Regions from separate parts of the Homo sapiens genome. Here region 2 is linked to region 1. The links come from fine-mapping of genetic effects on gene expression. A gene starts in region 1. The other region holds a variant in brackets. All regions are shown on one strand. Distances are between the middles of the regions. Region 1 holds the start of PKNOX2 (PBX/knotted 1 homeobox 2). Region 2 overlaps PKNOX2 (PBX/knotted 1 homeobox 2).

Region 1 (5,366 bases):
ACTGTGAGCGGTGGTCGGGCCCATCTCCCTCCGGTAACCCCCTGCCCCTTATTCTGAGCAGCCTCTCTTTCTCTTGGCTTTCAAGCCTTTCCCGCTCACAAAGGGGAGGCGGTGACCAGGGAGTCTCCGTGGGGTCACGGCTCCCTCCCCCCTCGGGCTCTCAGCGGGAGAGAGCTCTCACGAATTCCAAGCCTACAAAACAACAGCCTTGGAGCTCCGCGGCGGCAGTCGCCGCGCCCCGGGCCGCCGAGGCCACTCGTGGGTCGTGGGTCGTGCGTCTTCCGTGTCCTGTAAGGGCTGTCTGGCTCTCCCTGCCAGGGGTGCAGGGGGCTGGGATGGTGGGTTTAATATTAAGAGGAGGAAATCTCAAATCTTCCTCCCCTCAATGCCCTCCTCCCCCCCGCTCCCACCCCCCACACACACTCTTTCTCTAGATGCCCAGAGAATAACCTACCTCCCTGGTCGGGACCCCTTCCCACCCCACACCCCACAGCTAGGCCCAAGCTATGGGGATGCAGCCCGAGTGGGAGATTATGAGACCAGAAACGGGACCCTCCCTCCCCGCTTCCACCAAGGTCCTGGGGCCTCCGAAGGCCAGAACGGCAGAGAGAGCAGGAGGGCAAGGGCAGGGGCTTTGGGTAATACACCGTGTTATGTTTGAACACCATCATTCTCAGATTTGGGGCGGGGAGGATCGTCTAAACTGCCTAAAATGCGAAGCTTTTGGCTGCCACCGGTTATAGAGCATTTGAAACCCGAAAAGCTAATATCCTGAAGTCTCCGGACAGGAGAGATGACAGTAGGGCACTCCAAGCTTCCTCCTCCCCCGGGCGCACCAAAGGCCGGGTTTGTGGGCTTCTCAGTCCGGCGCGGGTAAGCACAGGAAGCGGCTCCAATCAGGGCACTGGAGTTTGAGCCGGTCCTACCCTGGGCCACAGCCCAGACTCCTCGGCCCACTGTGGCACCTCGCTGCTAGCGCTGCCCCCCGGCCTTCATCGCAGGCCGCGGCCCCTGCGGGCCACCGCTCCCGCCCCGCCGCGCTGCGCCCGCAGACCCAGGTGGCTCCTGGAGCACTCCGAGCCGCCTGGGTCGGGACCTCAGATCCACTCCCAGCCCCGCGAGGCTGCCCTGCCGCTTCGCCCAGAAGGTCTCTTCGATCTGTCCGCTTCCCGGAATCGCTCTCTTAGGACCGGGTCCTGTGTGGCCCAAGTCCTCTCCTCCTAAAGAAACACTTTCAGGGGGAAGCAGCAAAAATTCGGGGCTCGCCTGCCATGGCTCAGATCAACTACTTTCATCGCCTACCTAAACGCTTTTTCACACGCGGAGCTGCAGGACCCCTCGTGCTACCCTCCCCAAATTCCAATAGCTTCCACCACAAGAAAAAGCTGTGATCCTGTTACTGAATCCTAAAAACGCCACCCGTTCCTCCAGCCCCCAACTCCGACCTCCAGCCCTCTGCTCTGGCCGGCGTGTAAACTACTTATCGGCCCCTCGATCCCGATTCCGTAAACAGTCTGGATCCTATAAACCGAACTCTAGACTGGTCCTAAAACCCAGCCCTAATTCAGGCCGATCCACAAGCCCCTACCCCTCAATTCCCAACCCGAGTCTCCCCACCGCGCGGAAACCCCCGGCTCCCCCGTGAAGAGCCCCGGGAAAGGACGGCCCATTTCGCTCGTTTCTTCCTGGGGATCGGGAGCCAGGAAAGCCCGTCTCCTAACCCGAAAGAAATGCAAACTTTGAGCGGCAGATTCGGGATCCTGCGCCATCCCCCTCAGCTCTCCGCTCTCGATCGCTTTCAGTTCCCTCTTTTACGAACTCATCCCCTAGTTCTCGAGCCAGAAGGGCTCCCGATTCCCAAGCCTCGCGCGGGCCCCTACGCCCGCCTCACCAAAGATCCCCAGCAATCATGGAAAGCCGGTGACCCTACACATTCTCGCTCCTCCCTGGGTGAGGGTCCGTGCGTGTAGCCCCTCGGATCCTGGCTTCCCGGGCCCCGCCGGTGTTCCCCTGTCTCCACTGATCCGTCTGCAAACCCTCATTCGCCCTGCCTCCCCAGGCCGCGGCCGCGGCTCCTCGACTCCTCCGGTCACCTGGCCCCAGCCTGGGACCGCTCCCGCCTCCAGCCGCTGGAAAGCATCTCCAGGCTGGTGGCGCGGAGTAAGCGCCGGCCCCAAGGACGCCCGAAGCCGGGAGAAAGAGAACCTGGAGCCTGCCCGCGGTTCCCAGCCTCTCCCCGCGGAGCGCCCGGCCGGGAGCCTTCTGCACCCGGGCTCGGGCCGGCGTGCCTGTTCCTATTCTCGGGTCCCCTGGCGCTCCTGGCGCACAGCTCCCCGCCCGCCCGCTACGGGGTTGGGCCCGCGGCGATTCGAGTCCGCAGCCCGGCTCCTTGCACCCGAGGACAATGCGCGGCCGGCCACGGGCCCAAGCGCGGCGAGGCGGCGGCGGCGGCGGCGGCGGGGCTGAGCGCTGGCCGGGCAGGGGAGCGGGCGGCCCGCGGGGCTCTCGCAGCCTCCGTGCCCGGCCTCGCCGCCCCTCGCGCTGCTCCGCTCCGCGCTCTCCCGGCGCTTCCCCAGCTTCTCTCTGCACGCTCCCGCCGTCCCTCGCTGCTCCCTGCCTCCCTCCTCCCTGCTGCCTCCCTCTCTCTCCTCCCTGCTGCCTCCCTCTCTCCCTCTCTCCTCCTTGCCCTGTCGCAATGAATAATACTCTGGCTTGGGGACTGGAATAAAACACACGCGCTCTGAGGCAGCCGCCCGCAGCAGCAGCCGCCGCCGCGCCGCCGCCGCCGCCTGCAAAAGCGTCTCTGACATGGAAATGAATGACAGCTTACCTGATGCCAATCTTCATCAGACTGACACCGGCGTGACAACACAGCCTATACTTCCCAGCACTGCTCGGGACGTCAGCGGCACAGGGACCCGCCCCCCGGACCCCCCCTTCACACACCTCCCCTCTCCCCACTCCCCCTTTTCTCCCCACCCCCCATCACCCCCACCCACTCCCGGCCCGGCCGCTGCCAAGTCGGAGGAGCCGCTGGAGTGTCTCCCTCTACCGGAGGCTCTCGGGCGGCGGGCGCGGGCCTGCTCCTGCGGCAGGGAGGCGGGCGGCCTGGAGAAGCGGCTCCGCTCGCGAGGAGCCTCGGATGGGGAGTGCGGTGGACCCCCAGGAACTCTGGAGCACCCTCCCGCCCCCAAGCCAAGTCCTCCTTAGCGAACAACCGGGGCCGAGTTCCAAGATATCACCGGTGCTGAGGGGACCGAGATGAGGTGAGATTTTCTGTGGACCCCAAGAGAACTCCCCAGAAATGATGAAACTTAAAACGGGCAAGAAATCCTTCCTTCCACCAGCACTCCCCCTCCCCCTTTTCCTGCCTGGCTGGCCTCATTTTTATGATTGCATTTGAATAATTCTCATTACCCTGGCCCCAGAAAAGGTGTTCAGATGACACTCTGGTTAGTTATTCCTGGTCTCAAGAGCTTTTTCTGCTGTGGGCTTCCCGGGGTGTCTGGTTCAAGGTGGGGCAGAGGGAGAGAGGAAAGAGTGGATAGGCTTTGTCAGTAAAGCACTTCTTTGCAAATGTCAGGCAAGCCTGTTCTAAGCCACTGCTATTTTCATTCTAATAAAAAGTCCTCAAGAAACTCAGTGAGTTCCCAGAGTTCTGGGGGCTGGGGTGCAGTCATATAAAGGGAAAGACCAGCTGGGCTGTTTCAGCCTGGGCCTGCTGGGGTGGCTTCATCTACATCAGGGAGGAAATGGGCTCCTTACATGCCCTCTACAGTGGAAGACAAAAGCAGGCATGTGTAGACCCACAAGCGCCTCCATTCACTCAGCAGAGATCACAGTCCTACTAAGAGCCACACACAGGAGCACACTTGCTTGCTTCCTCAACTTAGCACATGGCCCTCCGCATAAAGGGACAAGAGAACCCCTTCTGCCTCTGGAAGTTTGCTTCTTGCTCCCCATAGAGGAGCCCTTTCAGCCAGTCAGGCAGCCATTGATCCTCTGACCCCAGGCCAGGCAGGGGGCCTGGAAGAAGCCCAGACAAAGACACCGACAAAAGCGGGAAAGCAGAAAGTGAAACCCAGCCTCTGGGTTTTCAGTAAAGAATCTGACCCAAGAAGTTGAAGGCTGCCCCTGAGCTCTTCTCAGGCCTCTGGGTCGCCACTCACCCGCCTCCGTCATGGGCAAGGATGAGAGCTGTTAGCATTGCCTGGCTCAGGGGAGGCAATTGAGACCCTTCTTATATCACATCCCAGATACACACACTACTGTTTGTCCAGATCCTCCCAATACCCTCAAATCCACCCACCAACGTTGCTTGTGGGAGAAACTCTTCAGTGGTAGCCCCCATTATAGACAGATTAGAATCCTCTCACCTTCACATAGAACCTTCAAAAACTTCACTAGGTGGATTTATGTCACCCTAGCCTCTGATCTGCAGTCAGAGTCTCTGGCTGCTGACAGCATAATCGCTATTATATATTATACATTGTATAATAATATAATAATAATGAATGCACTTGCCCTTTTTATGTGGTACAGAAGCGGCCAGATTCTCCAACCCAGAGGCTGGAGGTCAGGCTGCCATAAACTCTCAGAGGGAAGCCCTCTTCAGATAAGGGAGGGGGAGGGGAGATCCATTTGTCTCTGCCCAGGACCCCTGGAGGGAGGAGTTTCTCTCTTTCCCATGGCTCCCAGTGAGTTGCTGCAGCCTGCAGAGTCAGAGGGGAAAATCAGGCTGAATTCACCCCATCAGAGAGGTGTCAGTGAGCCATAAATAGGACCGCAGGCAACAGCCTTGGATCACTGATTTACACCTGTCACACCCCTCGTTTTCTGAAATCTAGATCAATGCCCAACACTTTCCTGATATGGGAGATCCATTGCCATGAGCTATTAATTTTTGGAGTCTTCAAATACTATGATTTTCACTAATACCTTTTTGGTGCTTTAAACTGCACATCGTAGTTTTAAGTAAATATATCTTGCTTTGACTATTTTTGTCATTTGCAAGAGCTTAAAAAATGATTATCCAAAATATAACCATCGTTTTTATAATCACTGAAGGCAAATATTTTCCCTGCACCCACCAGAAGCTCTGCTGTGTGCTAGCACTAAGAATAAAGAGCAGAAGCAAAGAGGCTCAGGTTATGGCTCCTGTCCTCAAGAAGCATTCATTTGTTGAAGAAGACAAAGCGCCAATATGTAAAACATTAAGTAGCAATAATACAGGAATCAACAGAAGACACAAGCTAGTAAATACTTAATGAAGAAATGAGTTGTCAATATGTCAAATTCCATGAGTTCCACATCTCAGTTTTGGCTCTGTCAATGAGTAGAGAAAGGATAGAGTAGAAATTAAGAAT
Region 2 (5,366 bases), 75 kb before region 1:
TTTGTTGAGCACCTACTGTGTACCTAGAAACACTGCAGGCTCAGCAGAGCATGATGGGGACGTGAGGATGATTGCAAGCCTAGATGAAGAGATAGGCCATGGACAGACGTGCCCCGACAAAGAACAACAAGCAGGGCACTAAAACTCAGGAGCCAAGAAGGACACACCCGCCACTCTCCTGAAAGACTGCCTCGCTCGCACACTCACACACAACCCGCCCTCCCCCCATCCCTGCCCCGCATTGCACAGGAAGACCTGAGCCATTTCCCCTGGGCTGCTCTATCCCCAGCATGGAATGCAGACTCCTCCACCCCTGATGTCCCCCCACCAGCTGGGCAGCAGTCCAGAACCAGTAACCAGAGGCCACCCTTCAGGGCCTGTGCACCACTCAGGCCCCCAGCACATGCAGACACACACAGGCAGGTACATGCAGGCATCCTAGAACATGTATGAACCCTGGCATCGTGGGGAGAGAGAGTAGGGCAAACTCCCAGAGCGGCTTAGCTTCCAGTAAGGATGGATGGGTGGATGGGCAGGTGGGGGTATGAAGAGGGGAGACTGGGAAGTATAGGAGCTTTTACCTCCCTACAGGGAGATGCTCCTGGGGTTCCCCAGTGGGCCCCGTTACAGACCAACACTGCCTTGCCCTCCGATGACAACAGGCCAGCCTCAGTTCCCTCTGCAAAAATAGTACCCACCTCACATGTGAGCATGTGCGAAATGAGACAGCGACACACCAAGCACAGGGCCCCCACATAGACGGGGAACCACAGATGAAGTGCCCCTACTCATCTTGTGAAATGAAGGTGATGAATGGATAGGCAGCTCCCTCTGCATGGTGCATGGTGTCAGCAGAAATCAGTCTCCTGCTCCCCGCCGCCATCCCCCTCCACCTTCACCATCCATCCTGGAGCTTGGGGGCTTAACTGGAGAGTACCTCTCCATCACTCCACCCTCTTCACCTTGAATCATACATTCATCCTTCATCCTTTCTCTCTCTCTCTCTTTTTTTGTTCATTTGTTTTGTTGTTGTTTTTTGATGAAGTCTTGCTCTGTCACCCAGGCTGGAGTGCAGTGGCATGATCTCAGCTCACTGCAACCTCCACCTCCTGGGTTCAAGCAATTCTCCTGCCTCAGCCTCCTGAGTAACTAGGATTACAGGCATGCGCCACTACGCCTGGCTAATTTTCGTATTTTTAGTAGAGACAGGGTTTCACCATGTTGGTCAGTCTGGTCTCGAACTCCTGACCTCGTGATCTGCCCACCTTGCCCTCCCAAAGTGCTGGGATTACAGGCGTGAGCCACCGCGCCAGTCCCCTCCTTTCTCTTAATCAGTCTTGTAGGGTGCCTGTTATGACCAGGAACGATTCAAGGTATTGGGATTGAAAGAAGAATGGGGTTCAATGGTTTACATGGATAGATAGACTAATAATTGTGTTTGAGTCTTGTGATGGTCTACAGGCAAAGGAACGCAGCAGCATAGGGATGGGGGAGGCTGGGAAGGCCTGTAAGGAGGAAGTCACAGAGGAGATAAATGAGCAAGGGCCGCCCAGGCTGAGGATAGTCCAGATAAGCAGCATGTGCAAAGGCACCGAGGCATAAAAGTACACAGAGTATTTGTTGGGGGAGATTGAGCAATCCGGCATAGTTGGGGTTTCAGCTATAGGAGTGTGCCTGTGTATCTGAGTGTCTGTATTTACAGGGATGGGGAGCAGCTGCAGGGTGAGAGATGAAGTTAGGAAAGTAGACCAGGGTTGAACCGTGAAGCCCATGGTCAGCCAGGCCAAGAAAGCTGAACTTCAACCTGTGGATAGCAAAGAACCACTGGAGGTGGTCCAGCATGGGGATGGCATGGCCGCATATCACAGCAGCATTAATTAGGCTCCAGCTATCGCAAGCACAGCGCTAGGCTCCTCCAGATACGGGAGGCTCTCCTTGGCTAGCTCTGATGATAAATGGGTCTAATGAGGTATTTTCCTCTTTGATCCATGCAACTATCCCTGGAGAAATGGCTAGCTTTGGAGCAATTTTTCCTCTCTGAAGAGCCAGCTTGGCTGGCTAACTGCAAAGGCAAGAGGAGGGGACCCTACACCATCACTAGTCCCCCCACAGCCAAGGATACTGGGAGCAGCACTTGGAAACCCTTCAGAACCTTCTTATAAGCCTCCCGGTTCTCCCTCTGAGGATTTGAGAAGGATCTGAGAATGGGTAATGGTGGAAGTGACAGGCACCACAGAGAAAGAAAAAAGAGGGAAATCCTTTCAGGCTGGACAAGGATTTAGAACTGCATTTCAGTGGATGAAGAAAGGCGATTTGGGTGGTGGCAGCCACCTTGCAGCTTCCAAACTCTGCTCAAAGCCTCTTGCCCTGCTTGCAGCGGGAAAGGGTCTCTCTCCCTTTCCACCTCTTCTCTCTCCTCCCTCCCATCCCTCCTTCCCAGCTCCTCTCCAGAAAGGTTTATGGAGAAGACTCCAAATAGCCACCTCTCCTGCAGGCATAGTCACACCAACTGAAAGGAGATTTAATTAGCAAAATCTCGTTAGGCAAACGAAATTATCCGTAAGACAATACTCTTCTGGACAGGGGGTATGATTAAACAAAGCCATTAATTGAGAGAGTC[G/A]CCTTGGCAGCTCCCAGATGCGTTCATCTCTGGGCCGGCTCCACTCGGCCTCCTTGGGCCAGGGAAACAGACTCTTTGCCTCCTCCCCTGCCCGGTCCACCCCCTCCCCACTCCATCTCACTCTTCCGGGGCGCCTCCAGTTGGGGCTGCAGACCTCGGCATCTCATCAATCGGCCTCTCTGCCGCCAGATTCCTGCTAAAGTGCCTTGATTGCATAACGTCTATTTGCATAATGTAAATTGCAATCTCCTAGCTCAGGAGGCAGGAATCACAGAACAGCCATTATTTTTTACCACTCCACAAAAATTCTACATTTAGAAAGCAGATTTGCAGCTCGGAAAGCCTGAATCCGAATCCTCCAGAAATGCCATTAAATCACACCAATTAAGCTGGACCAACTAAATGCCCCTGTCACTGCTCTCTGCACACTCAAGGACTACCAGCCTAGATGGAGGCCATGAGAACCTGGAGGCTGGGGCCACGGAGCTGGCTGCAAAGCCGGAAGAGGCAGGAAATTCTGCCTTATAAACCTTAGCACACACCCTTCGAGCATAGGTTCCCATCAAGATCTGGTCGAGCGGGGTGGATCGAGTCTGTTGTTTTTACGCTCATTGCCTGATTTCTTGCGGGCACTCTGACTGTCTGTAGATGCAATCTACGGAGGAAAGAGCATGTGAAGAAGAAACCTCCACCTTTCACAAAGGTAATGGGAAGATCCAAAGTGTTTCACATGGGGTAAAACATCCACCCTTTTAGTGGTTCTTTAATGACCTTTTCTCTCTCCTTGCAAGTCCCCTCCAGCCAACTGAAATAAAAAATGAGGACAAACCCTACTCAGGCCAGGCTGGGCTGGCTGGATTCTGAGCTGTTTTTGAGAGCTGTTTCCTTAGGGGTCACTGGGGTGAAGGGTGAGTTACAAGGTCTCTGGAAAGCGGGCATTCCCTTGGACAGCCAGCCAGGATCCTAGCTCCTCTGCAGCAGTATACCTGGCTAGTGTTTTGCCTCTTTATTGCTCATTCAATATTCATTTGTCAAAGGGCAAGACACTAATGTGTATTATTAAAATATCAATAGTTTATGAGTGAACTTTTATGGAGAGTACAGTTAAAGGCAAGATTCTTGACCGTCTCTGTCAGAAGCAATGGAAAGGAATAGCCTTTCTTTCCAACTCCACTTTTTATTTATTTACTGGGCGAGTGAATGGCTGGAGCCTTAGTGAGTACCTATTGTGTGCCAAGAATGGCTCTAGGTACCTGCACATGCTGGATCGCAGTGAGTCCTCATAGCAGTCCTGGGAAGTATATACAACCCCATTTCTATTCCAGAGATGAGGAAGCCAAAGGCCAAAGAGATGTGCCCAGGATCACAGGGGTGCCAAGGCTGGGCTTCAAATCTGATCTTTGTACTTCAAATCCAACATTCTTCTCCCAAGCTGGAGCCTTGAAAATCTAAATGACCTTTATGTTTGTGTCCATCTGTTTCCTTCATGTGCCCAAATTAAATGTTAGTTTCCTGACCTAAGTTTCACAAAAGGGGACAGAATAGGAAATCATTCCATACTTTCACCTAGACTCAACTCCATGAAGTAGGCCCATTTAGATATAACTAAGCAAGTTCCCAAAATCTTATCTGCACATTTAGAATCTTAGAAATGACAGTAGCATTGGGGATGATGCCATCAGACATTTCCATTTACAGAGGAGTCAACTGAGTGTCATACAAGAAAATAGTGTAAGTCTCAAGAATAGAGAGTCCTTAGTTGAATTTCAATTCTGTTACTTCCTAGGGTATTCCTCTTGCTCTCTAAGCCTCCTCTCCTCTTCTGTAATAGAGATAATAACATCATCCCATAACATAGTGTGAGGGTTCAGTGAGAAAATGCACCCTAAGTGCTTAGCATGATGCCTAGCATGTAGTAAGTGCCCAATAAGTGGAAGAATCCAAGACTCTTCCTCCAAACTCTAGCACTTTTTATCAAGACCAAGTCCACTCACCCCTCTCGCCCCTGCCCCCTCCCCTTTGGTGTTAGCCATTCTCAGCTCTCAGCCCTTTGGGGATACGGGCTGGTTGTTTCTACTCTTTGGTTGCTTGGGCTTTTTTTCTATCCCCTTAAGTCACAACAAGGCACCTAGGACATTCAGATCCTCTTCCAGGATTTAGCTGCATCCGGGTCAGAAAAATGGCAAAGGAAAGAGACTATAGTTCTTGGAGGGCACAGCCTCCTCAGGACATAGTATGTGGCAGAGGGGAAGGAAGGAGAGCAGGGGACGTGAGGTCAGGGAGGAAGGGCTGCCCAGAATTCCCCAGCTACAGCACAGACCCTTGTAGCTTCTTAAATCCTAATCTTTGTGTGAAACCTACCCCAGCTTAGAAGTCCATGGGGATGGAGGTCCAGGGAGCCCTGGATGTAAGTGAAGGGCTCAAGGCTTGTGGAGTCCTGGCTCACAGTCTAGGACTCCTCCAGACCTGACACTTGAAGCTGTGGGTTACAGACTCAACTCACTCTTGTTGAGATCGACCCTGAGGTCGAAGTTTCTGCTAGCTGCAGGACCTATTAACACCAGCATGGCCTGCCCAGGAAGGAATCCTTGCCTGGCCTCCGAGGGCCCTTTCGACTCAAACATTCTGTGAATTAAGGGACAGTTTAATTTATCTAAGGCAGGGGGTTCTTTAGCCTGTCTTTCTAGGGAGAACAAATCACCCCCAAAGAAGGGTTCCTTTTATTCTTTCTGGGAAATAGATGAGG

What was found. PIP is the estimated chance that this variant, and not a neighbour inherited with it, causes the effect.
Region 2: its variant is the best candidate, but not a certain one, in a credible set for the expression of PKNOX2 in putamen (GTEx, PIP 0.79).

What each region holds. Positions count from the first base shown.
Region 1 is chr11:125,162,241-125,167,606 of GRCh38, reverse strand. PKNOX2 (PBX/knotted 1 homeobox 2) reads right to left here and starts at 2,856. Exons shown (of 13, transcript NM_001382323.2): 1 at 2,831-2,856. PKNOX2-DT (PKNOX2 divergent transcript) reads left to right here and starts at 2,998. Exons shown (of 3, transcript NR_125759.1): 1 at 2,998-3,266. RefSeq lists a silencer at 2,994-3,143.
Region 2 is chr11:125,237,525-125,242,890 of GRCh38, reverse strand. The region is part of intron 2 of PKNOX2 (PBX/knotted 1 homeobox 2); the gene reads right to left. Among named protein-coding and RNA genes, the nearest start is that of PKNOX2-AS1, 27 kb to the left of the region's middle. The variant G/A (reference allele first, on the strand shown) is at 2,621.